Regions from separate parts of the Homo sapiens genome. Here region 1 is linked to region 2. Evidence: fine-mapped expression QTL. A gene starts in region 2. The other region holds a variant in brackets. All regions are shown on one strand. Distances are between the middles of the regions. Region 1 overlaps LINC02542 (long intergenic non-protein coding RNA 2542). Region 2 holds the start of TENT5A (terminal nucleotidyltransferase 5A).

The links. PIP is the estimated chance that this variant, and not a neighbour inherited with it, causes the effect.
Region 1: its variant is the best candidate, but not a certain one, in a credible set for the expression of TENT5A in pancreas (GTEx, PIP 0.55).

What each region holds. Positions count from the first base shown.
Region 1 is chr6:81,955,763-81,961,135 of GRCh38, forward strand. All of the region lies in intron 3 of LINC02542 (long intergenic non-protein coding RNA 2542), which reads right to left. Among named protein-coding and RNA genes, the nearest start is that of LINC02542, 140 kb to the right of the region's middle. The variant T/C (reference allele first, on the strand shown) is at 3,060.
Region 2 is chr6:81,749,857-81,755,229 of GRCh38, forward strand. TENT5A (terminal nucleotidyltransferase 5A) reads right to left here and starts at 2,825. Exons shown (of 3, transcript NM_017633.3): 1 at 2,575-2,825; 2 at 1,734-2,322; 3 at 1-615. The coding sequence starts at 2,285. RefSeq lists enhancers at 2,486-2,986, 3,847-3,896 and a silencer at 2,897-3,026.

The DNA of each region.
Region 1 (5,373 bases), 210 kb after region 2:
TGGGAGGGTGTATGTGTCGAGGAATTTATCCATTTCTTCTAGATTTTCTAGTTTATTTGTGTAGAGGTGTTTATAGTATTCTCTGATGGTAGTTTGTATTCCTGTGGGATCGGTGGTGATATCCCCTTTATCATTTTTTATTGCATCTATTTGATTCTTCTCTCTTTTCTTCTTTATTAGTCTTGCTAGCAGACTATCAATTTTCTTGAACTTTTCAAAAAACCAGCTCCTGGATCCATCAATTTTTTGAAGGGCTTTTTGTGTCTCTATCTCCTTCAGTTCTGCTCTGATCTTAGTTATTTCTTGCCTTCTGCTAGCTTTTGAATGTGTTTGCTCTTGCTTCTCTAGTTCTTTTGATTGTGATGTTAGGGTATCAATTTTAGATCTTTCCTGCTTTCTCTTGTGGGCATTCAGTGCTATAAATTTCCCTCTACACACTGCTTTGTGTCCCACAGATTCTGGTATGTTATGTCTTTGTTCTCATTGGTTTCAAAGAACGTCTTTACTTCTGCCTTCATTTCATTATGTACCCAGTAGTCATTCAGGAGCAGGTTGTTCAGTTTCTATGTAGGTGAATGGTTTTGAGTGAGTTTCTTAATCCTGAGTTCTAGTTTGATTGCATTGTGGTCTGAGAGACAGTTTGTTATAATTTCTGTTCTTTTACACTTGCTGAGGGGTGCTTTACTTCCAACTATGTGGTCAATTTTGGAATAAGTGTGATGTGGTGCTGAGAAGAATGTACATTCTGTTGATTTGGGGTGCAGAGTTCTGTAGATGTCTATTAGGTCCACTTGGTGCTGAGCTGAGTTCAATTCCTGGGTATCCTTGTTAACTTTCTGTCTCGTTGATCTGTCTAATGTTGACAGTGGGTTGTTAAAGTCTCCCATTATTATTGTGTGGGAGTCTACGTCTCTTTTTAGGTCTCTAAGGACTTGCTTTGTGAATCTGGGTGCTCCTGTATTGGGTGCATATATATTAAAGATAGTTAGCTCTTCTTGTTGAATTGATCCCTTTACCATTATGTAATGGCCTTCTTTGTCTCTTTTGATCTTTGTTGGTTTAAAGTCTGTTTTATCAGAGACTAGGATTGCAACCCTTGCCTTTTTTTGTTTTCCATTTGCTTGGTAGAACTTCCTTCATCCCTTTATTTTGAGGCTATGTGTGTCTCTGCATGTGAGATGGGTCTCCTGAATATAGCACACTGATGGGTCTTGACTCTTTATCCAATTTGCCAGTCTGTGTCTTTTAATTGGAGCATTTAGCCCATTTACATTTAAGATTAATATTGTTATGTGTGAATTTGATCCTGTCATTATGATGTTAGCTGGTTATTTTGCTCATTAGTTAATGTAGTTTCTTCCTTGCACTGATGGTCTTTACAATTTGGCATGATTTTGCAGTGGCTGGTACCGGTTTTTCCTTCCATGTTTAGTGCTTCCTTCAGTAGCTCTTGTAGGGTGGCCAGGTGGTGACAAAATCTCTCAGCATTTGCTTGTCTGTAAAGGATTTTATTTCTCCTTCACTTACGAAGCTTAGTTTGGCTGGATATGAAATTCTGGGTTGAAAATTCTTTTCTTTAAGAATGTTGAATATTGGCCCCCAGTGTCTTCTGGCTTGTAGAGTTTCTGCTGAGAGATCCTCTGTTAGTCTGATGGGCTTCCCTTTGTAGTTAACCCAACCTTTCTCTCTGTCTGCCCTTAACATTTTTTCCTTCATTTCAACTTTGGTGAATCTGACAATTATGTGGCTTGGAGTTGCTCTTCTCGAGGAGTATCTTTGTGGTGTTCTCTGTATTTCCTGAATTTGAATGTTGGCCTGCCTTGCTAGGTTGGGAAAGTTCTCCTGCATAATATCCTGCAGTGTTTTCCAACTTTGCTCGATTCTCCCTGTCACTTTCAGGTACACCAATCAGATGTAGATTTGGTCTTTTCACACAGTCCCATATTTCTTGGAGGCTTTGTTCATTTCTTTTTACTCTTTTTTCTCTAAACTTCTCTTCTCGCTTCATTTCATTCATTTGATCTTCAATCACTGATACCCTTTCTTCCAGTTGATCGAATCGGCTAATGAAGCTTGTGCACTTGTCAGGTAGTTCTCGTGCCATGGTTTTCAGCTTCATCAGGTCATTTAAGTACTTATCTACAGTGTTTATTCTAGTTAGCCATTAGTCTAATCTTTTTTCAAGGTTTTTAGCTTCTTTGCGATGGGCTCGAACTTCCTCCTTTAGTTCGGAGAAGTTTGATCGTCTAAAGCCTTCTTCTCTCAACTCATCAAAGTCATTCTCCATCCAGCTTTGTCCTGTTGCTGGTGAGGAGCTACATTCCTTTGGAGGAGGAGAGGCGCTCTGATTTTTAGAATTTTCAGCTTTTCTGCTCTGTTTTTTCCCCATCTTTGCGGTTTTATCTACCTTTGGTCTTTGATGATGGTGACATACAGATGGGGTTTTGGTGTGGATGTCCTTTCTGTTTGTTAGTTTTCCTTCTAACAGTCAGGACCCTCAGCTGCAGGTCTGTTGGAGTTTGCTGGAGGTCCACTCCAGACTTGTTTGCCTCGATATCAGCAGCATAGGCTGCAGTACAGCGAATATTGCTGAAAAGCAAATGTTGCTGCCTGATCGTTCCTCTGGAATCTTCATCTCAGAGGGGTACCCAGCTGTGTGAGGTGTCAGTCTGCCCCTACTAGGGGGTGCCTCCCAGTTAGGCTACTCGGGGGTCAGGGACCCACTTGAGGAGGCAGTCTGTCCATTCTCAGATCTCAAACTCCATGCTGGGAGAACTACTACTCTCTTCAAAGCTGTCAGACAGGGACATTTAAGTCTGCAGAGGTTTCTGCTGCCTTTTGTTCTGCTATGCCCTGCCCCCAGAGGTGGAGTCTACAGAGGCAGGCAGGCCTTCTTGAGCTGAGGTGGGCTCCACCCAGCATGAGCTTCCCAGCTGCTTTGTTTACCTACTCAAGCCTCAGCAATGGTGGGTGCCCCTCCCCCAGCCTTGCTGCCACCTTGCAGTTTGATCTCAGACTGCTGTGCTAGCAAAGAGCGAGGCTCTGTGGGCGTGGGACCC[T/C]CCGAGCCAGGCACGGGATATAATCTCCTGGTGTGCCATTTGCTAAGACGGTTGGAAAAGCACAGTATTAGGGTGGGAGTGACCCGATTTTCCAGGTGCTGTCGATCACCGCTTCCCTTGGCTAGGAAAGGGAATTCCCTGGCCCCTTGCACTTCCTGGGTGAGGTAATGCCTTGCCCTGCTTCGGCTCACGTTCGGTGGGCTGCACTGTCCTGCCCCCACTGTCCGACAAGCCCCAGTAAGATGAACCTGGTACCTCAGTTGGAAATGCAGAAATCACCCGTCTTTTGCGTCGCTCAAGCTGGGAGCTGGAGACTGGAGTTGTTCCTATTCGGCCATCTTGGAACCACTGCCCCAAGTCTTGTAATTTCTTCAGACACTTTAACCCCAATGAAACTTTCATTCCTAATCAACCCACTAGGATTTTTGCTGTCAGAATTCTTTTCACACTAATATTCTCGACCTCAAATACAGCAGTAGTTTACACCTTTATATACACCGATTTATTATAGTTTGCAGATTTGGGTAAAACTATATAGAAAATTTATTTTAAAAGGTTCACTAGGAGCAAGGTTTATACTTTCTGTGTATGAATAATACATTATCTACCTCTTTTATATCACTCAAAGTCCCTAGCTCAGGGCTAGCTGGCACACAGCTTCTTAAAAAGAATGAACTATGTTTTGTCTAACTTTCTTTCCCCAAGTTCTTGACTGAAGGACACCTTGACTGCCTCACCCTTGACATGTTATCTGTCATCAAGTCTCTACTTTCCCTTCAAAATAAAGTCTCAAATCTGCCCACTTCTTTCTATGTCATCTGCAGCACTTCAAAAGCTTCTTTACTGCAATTCCACTTCATCAATGGCTTTCAAAAACCCACTCTATTCACACAGACAGAAAGAATTCGTATTAAAAAATCCAATTATGCCCGCTGTCTTTTTAGAAGCCATAAATGGGTTTTCATTTTACTTTGAATAAAATCCCAATACCTGAGAGTGGCCTCCAAGGCCATGTATGATATGGCCCCCGCCAACTCTCTCATCTTAGCATAGGGCACTCTCCTTCCTCTTTCTAACCCAGCCACATGGGCCTCCTTTGAGCTTCACTCAGTGGTTATGGTCATTTGGCTCAAGGCCTTTGCCCTTCTTGGCCCCCTTCCTAAAAGGCTCTTCCTCAGCACTTTACATAATCATTTCCGTCTCTCCTTCCAGGTATAGAGCATCATGCTTGCTTTTCTCCCCCCAACTCTTCTTTAGACAGGAATGCTTAAGCAATTCTGTCACTGTGCACTTTATCTTACTGATAATGGGTTATTATGATTATTATTATTTGAGACAGAGTCTTCCAGGCTGGAGTGCAGTGGCACGATCTCGGCTCACTGCAACATTCGTCTCGCGGGTTCAAGGGATTCTCCTGCCTCAGCCTCCTGAGTAGCTGGGTTACAGGCACCCACCACCATGACCGGCTAATTGTACTTTTTAGTAGAGATGGGGTTTCACCATGTTGGCCAAGCTGGTCTCGAACTCCTGACCTCAGGTAATCCACTTGCCTTGGCCTCCCAAAGTGCTAGGACTGCAGGTGTGAGCCAACACACCCAGCTGATAATGAGTAATTATTAGTTATTTTCTGGTTTACTTCTAAATTATTTCTCATATCTCTAGATTATAATATCCATGAAGGTAGGGACCATGTATGTTTGTTGTTTTTGCTTTTATTTTCATCGTTGTGTACCCAGCATCTAGCACAATTACCTGCCACATAGAAAGCACTCTGAAATATTTGTCAAATAAGAATCTATGAAGTGAGACTTGAGTATTTAGTATATGCCAGGTGCAAGAAAGACAAAGTAAAATAATTCCAGGCCTCTACCCCTTAACTAATATTTCTTTCTAACTCCCTGTTCAGTGATATCATCTTAGCTTAAATTTGGCCATGGTAGACTATTCATACGAGGGAAATTACCAATTCTGCAAATCAGTGCTTCCCTCCCTGCATGACAGCCAGTTTACAAACAGATCATTTTAAATAGGAAAACTTATACATATATGTGCAAAATATTAAGGGAGCTTTCAATATACAGTGCTAGGAAAACTGGACATCCACAAGCCAAAGAATGAAGTTGGACCTCTAACTTACACCATATATAAAAATTAATTCAAAATGAATTAAAGACCTAAACGTAAAAGCTAAAACTATAAAACTTCTATAAGAAAACATGGGAACATCTTCATAATATGAGATCTATTAAAGATTTCTTATATATGACACCAAAAGCACAGTCAACAAAAGATAAATAGGCCAGTGCAGTGGCTC
Region 2 (5,373 bases):
TAACACCCGGATAGCCAGCATGGTGATAAGGTTTAAAGTCTGTCTTCTTTCATGTCCCATCAGGCACACTGTGCTCTCATTTACCACTCCATGAAGGGTCATGAGATACTCATACTTGCGGTCTTCCAATCCCACAAAGTGGTTCTGCAAATAGGACTCCAGTTTTCTCTGCTGCTCTCCAATGTCTGAGAAGTCGATGAAAAACCTGGAACACATATACCTTTGAAGGGTCTTGATTTCATCAGAGGCGGGCCTAAAGCCCCTCACCAAGAGGTTGCAGTACTTAAGCAGGCCTCCCCCTCGGATTTCCTCTGGGTTCCTGGTGGCAATGATCTTGTTACAAAGGTGATCAAAGGCTTCCTGGAAATCGCCATAGACGCTCTCCCCGATTATTGTGGGGTGAAATGTCTCAGTCATTGGGTTCTCTGAACATTCATAAAAGAGCAGAAGAGAGTCTAATTTGATTTGAAAAGAATCTACACTGAATTCAAACTGCCTCCGGAGGGAATCCACAAATTTCAGTTCCACATTTTTGCCACTGTTGTTTGACAGGGATATAAGACTCCATCGGTCAGAGTCATTGCACACTTTAACCATTTTCTGCACATAAGCTTCCTACAATTTAAAAGATAAAACAAAATGAGCAAACCTAGAAAATAATAAATCAATAAATAAATACATCCTCTTCACAGCTGAGAATTATTTTGCTCTTTCCCTTTTGTTTTGTCAAGTTTCAGCCAAACACTACCTACAGGCTTAAACGGTCTTCTGAAAATAGAAAAAAAATACTTTTAACGAGTAGTTTTACTGTCTGGGAAAGGGACTAGAGGTAATAGTTTGAGGCTTTTGGCAGACGTAGCACAGTAGTAAGAGGTTTTGTTGTCATGTCTGACTTTTTAAGTGTTACTTTTTGAAAACGGTCTAATAGGCACAATATTCACACAGTATCCAAACAACATTCAAAAGACTCGGAAGGGCATTCAGCGGTAGGTTAGTCAGCCTCTCGCCCTTGTTCCAAGCCACCCAATTCCTCTCCGCCTGCGGCAATCAATGTTATCAGTATCTTGTGTGTCCCTCCAGGGGCACCCTGCAGTTACAATCAAATATAAACTAAATTATGACATTCCAGGAGCCTGCCTCCTCAGACAATTTTAACTAATCATATAAAACCCGTCTTGAACTAAAGTGGAGGGTGGGGAGGGGGTGCCACTATACCCTTAACATATGAACCAGCACGAAGAACCACCAGATAGACCTTTAACACGTAGTCAGCTGAATGCCGCTGTGAAATCTATTCACCTTTTCCAGTACAATAAAAAACTCATTGACTCACTTCTGCTTCAGGCTGTTATTTTCCCAAAGGCTAGACTCAAATATAATGACTCAAAAATTATTTACATCATTTCATTCTGCCAAGTATCAGAATCTACTCTGGACAAGACTCCAACAGGGAAAGCCAAGAGTTAAAACATAAGGAGAAAGAAGAGAAGAGAGGGCAGAGGAGGACCTGGGAGAAGAGTTGTAGCGCCAAAGCATCAAGTAAACTGAAACACTCAACACCGTCCACGCACGTCAGTTTACTGGTTTAAAAAATCAAAAATCAAAGAAATAACGCGCGCCCAAACTCGTGATGGCCACAGATTCATGGCATTTAACCGATGCCCCTCTGCCCGCTCCCCGTCACACCCGGCCCAGACTGGGTCAGGACCCAAGTGCATCTCGGGTGGTGTTACCTTGAGCGTGAGTGGTGTGATCTTCTCTTTGTTCACCCCCTCGGGTAAGAAGTCCAACAGGCAGTCCAGCACGACGTCCTTCACAGTCTGAAACTCCCCTTCCCCGCGCAGGTCGGCGCAGAAGATGAGGTCCAGGTCCTTGTAGCCCAGGCCGCTGTCCTGGTGCAGGACATGGCTGGCTGCCGAGCCGTTGAGGCGCACGTCGCGGACGCCAATGCGCTTCTCGGCCAGGCGCCGCCGCACCACCTTCACGATCAGGCTCGGCTGCAGCTCGAGCGTGGGGAAGTTGCCGCGCCCGTGAATCGGAATGGTCTCGCTCAGGATGCCGTCCAGCCGCTGCACTTGCTCCCAGTTCAGCACATTGCAGTGCGCCGTAGGGCTTTCGCAATAGTCCAAGCAATGCCCACCGAAGCTGCCGCCACCGCCGAAGTCGCCGCCGCCGAAGTCGCCGCCGCCGAAGTCGCCGCCGCCGAAGTCGCCGCCTAGGGGGATGTAGGGGCTGCAGGCCAGCTCGTCCTCAGACATGGCGAAGTACCCTTCACCCTCCGCCATGTAGTGCCCGCCGAGCGCCACTTGGCCCTGGTCAGTCCTAAAAAGAAAGGGAAAGGAGCGCGGTGAGGACGCGCGGCGGCGGAGAGCACGCGCGGCGGCGGAGAGCAGAGGCCCGCCAGGAAAAGAGCGCCCCCTCCCCCGATAGTTCCCTGACCCCGGGCCTCCTCGGAGACTCCCTCCCCCGGCCCTTACAGTCCCCAGCCGCGCACCGCGCCCCGCAGAGCAGCCCCGCACCAAAAGTATCTCTGATGCATCTGGAAAGCGCAAGCGAGAGTCCCGTCTGTGTCACCTGGAGGCGGCCGCCCCTTCTAGGAGCGCAGCGAGCGAGAGCGAAACCGAGAGGCGGCAACACTTCCAGGAGCTGCGAGCGCGCTCAGACAGCAAATAGCGACTTCGTCTTTCCCAGACCCCTGCCGCCTGCGCTCACCACTCCCTCCCCGCGACCCCTCCTGCGCCGCTGCCACCCCAGCTGCGGTGGTCCCGAACTGGCGGCTCTTGCTGCCACACACGCTCGTGTCTCTGGAGCTTTAGCAGTTGTGCGGGGAAAATGTCTTCAGTACTTTTTTTATACCGGGCTTCTCTGCGCTTCCGGGGCCCAGAGCGGCACGTTCGCCACACCCTCCTCATCTGCATAGGGCGCCGCCCCCTCTGCCCTCCCCCGCCCGCAGGGCACGCAGCTGACTAGCCCAGCAGTTAGTGCGGGACGACTGCCGGTGAGCGTGAGGTCCTGGGCTGTATGTGCGGATACTGTGTGCGCCCGTAGATGCGTGTATTTATACATACATTTAATTTATGTACGCCCCCTCCCACAAATCTCTTTTCATTTTCCCCAGGAGGAGACACTTTAAATGCCCCAGGAATCATAAGTGGTCATCAAAACCAGATCACGACTAAAATCCTGCAACTGCAGAAACTTCCCAAAATTCTCGCGGACTCAGCCCGTCTTTAGATCATCACGGTTGGGCTCCGGAGGTTCCTCACGACCGCTCTTTTAAACCTCGGTTTTTAGGTAGACCATTTACTCCATTGATAAACCCGATCCAAGTGTGGACTCATGAGTCCACTCTTGCACGCAAATCAGTCACGGCGCGTGAGTGGGAAGGGCTTGTTGATAACTGGGTTTCGATTCTCGAAACCTCGGGAAGCGCGCCGGGGAGCTCTGGGCGAGCCCGAGAAGGCGCGGGGGCGGCACCACGGGCCTCGGGCGTGCGCGGCTCCTGCGCACGAGTGGCTCCAAGGGGCCAGTACTTCGCGGGGGTCAGGGCGCGTCACGGAGCAGACGCGGGCGAGCAGCCAATGGCCGAGGACTGGGCGGGCCGAGTGGGCGCAGAGAGCGCGCCCGGGGAGTGCGTGCTGCCCCGGAGTCCAGGGAAAGGGCCGCTAGGTGTCCGGTGCCTTTGCTGCGAGTTCTCTGACAAAATTGGAGGCGGCGAAGCGCGTTCCTCGCGGCCCCCTAAAGTTTGGCCATTTTAAGTGCATCATAGTGTCAGTGGAATACGATTTGGTTTTCCACGAGACGTAAAAGTAGGAGTTTCAAGAATAAAATGAATTCTCTCCTCCAGCTTCGGTGACTTCGGCAGAGCTAATTCTACGCACGCTCACTCGCGCCACCACCACTCTTTGCTAGAAAGCTGTGGCCGTCTCTTCGGCAGCTCGCTGCCTCCATCAACTAACCCGGAGCAGCTTTCCCAGCGCCTAGACGCTGCCGGGGGCTGAGGTGGGGCAGAGGGGAGAATGCCAGGGTCACAGAATACTCCCCAAACCCTGCTCAGCCCTGCCCGCCCAGACTGGGAGGAAAAACAGCCCGCACCTCCTAACTGGGGGAGCCCCGGCCTAGTCACTCAAGCTGCGCGGCTCGGGGGTGAGGGGTAGGGTGCGGGGGTGTCACCCGTGGAGCATCCAGCTGCGTGACAACGCCGCCCCCTCCCGGTGCCCTGCCGAGCTGCGTCCCAAAATGGAGAAATCCGACTGTCTCTGTGGCAGAGGCCATCCCCTCAGCGCTGCGCCTAAGCACTGAGGTGCGCCTGGGGACTCTAGGACAACTACCCTGTCCGCATAGGGCCATCGCTTCCTTCAGAGCACACCCATGTGTTCCTCTGACCAGCCATCGGCGCATGAATCTATCTTAACCAGGCATTTTATACATATATATACATATGCATATTCTTGTGTGAGCATGTGTATAGAGAGAGCATTTAGTGACCTGTTACGTGCCAGGCAACAGGCTAAGTGCTGAAGATTTAAGAATGACATTTCACGTAATCTAGAGGGCATAGCACCTAGGTGCATAATTATGGTTCAGTTGCATATGTATTATGAGAGAAGTATATTCTGACGCAATCGCGTGGCGGGCTAACTACATAGGAAACGGAGAGACACCCGAGAAGGTGTCATTTGGACTGGATCTTGAAAGAATGGATGTTCTTTCAGTAGTCGGGGAAAGAGGAGAAGAGCGTTATCTACAAAGGGAAGCGTATGGAGTTGGAGAATGTTTGAGGAAGGATATGTACACTCCCGTGATTAATAAATGAGATTGGTAGTGCCTTGAGATAAGGTTTATGAGTACCAGGAACTTATTGAACACGTCTGGGCTATAACCTGTTTAGCTCCTTAACATAATACCTAATTTAATCTTCAAGAAGAAGGTATTTCCATCTCCTAGGGATCTAGAAACAGAGGAATCCAAGAAGTTAAGAAACATTCCCAAGTTCCACAACTAATAAGTTGTGGGGTCAGGCCTTTAACCCAACCCATTTGGCTGTGAATGCTGTTTAGTGGTCATTACGGGGTAACGAGTGGTCTGTAGCTTATCAGTACCTTCTTATTGGAAAACAAGACAAGCACAAATAGGAAGAAGGAACGATGGGGAGGGGAGGGAAGGGGAGGGGGAAAAGAAGAAAAGGAAATGGAGGAAGGGAGGGGAAGGGAAGGGAAAAAGAAAAGAAAAGGGGGGGAAGAGAAGAGTAAAGAAGAAAAGAGAAGAGAAAAGAAAAAGAAAAGAAAAAAGACCTGTTAAAAATGTTTCTTTCAAAGACCGGTATGAATTCTGCCCCTTCTTAAAACAAAGCCAAAGTAATAGATCGTATAT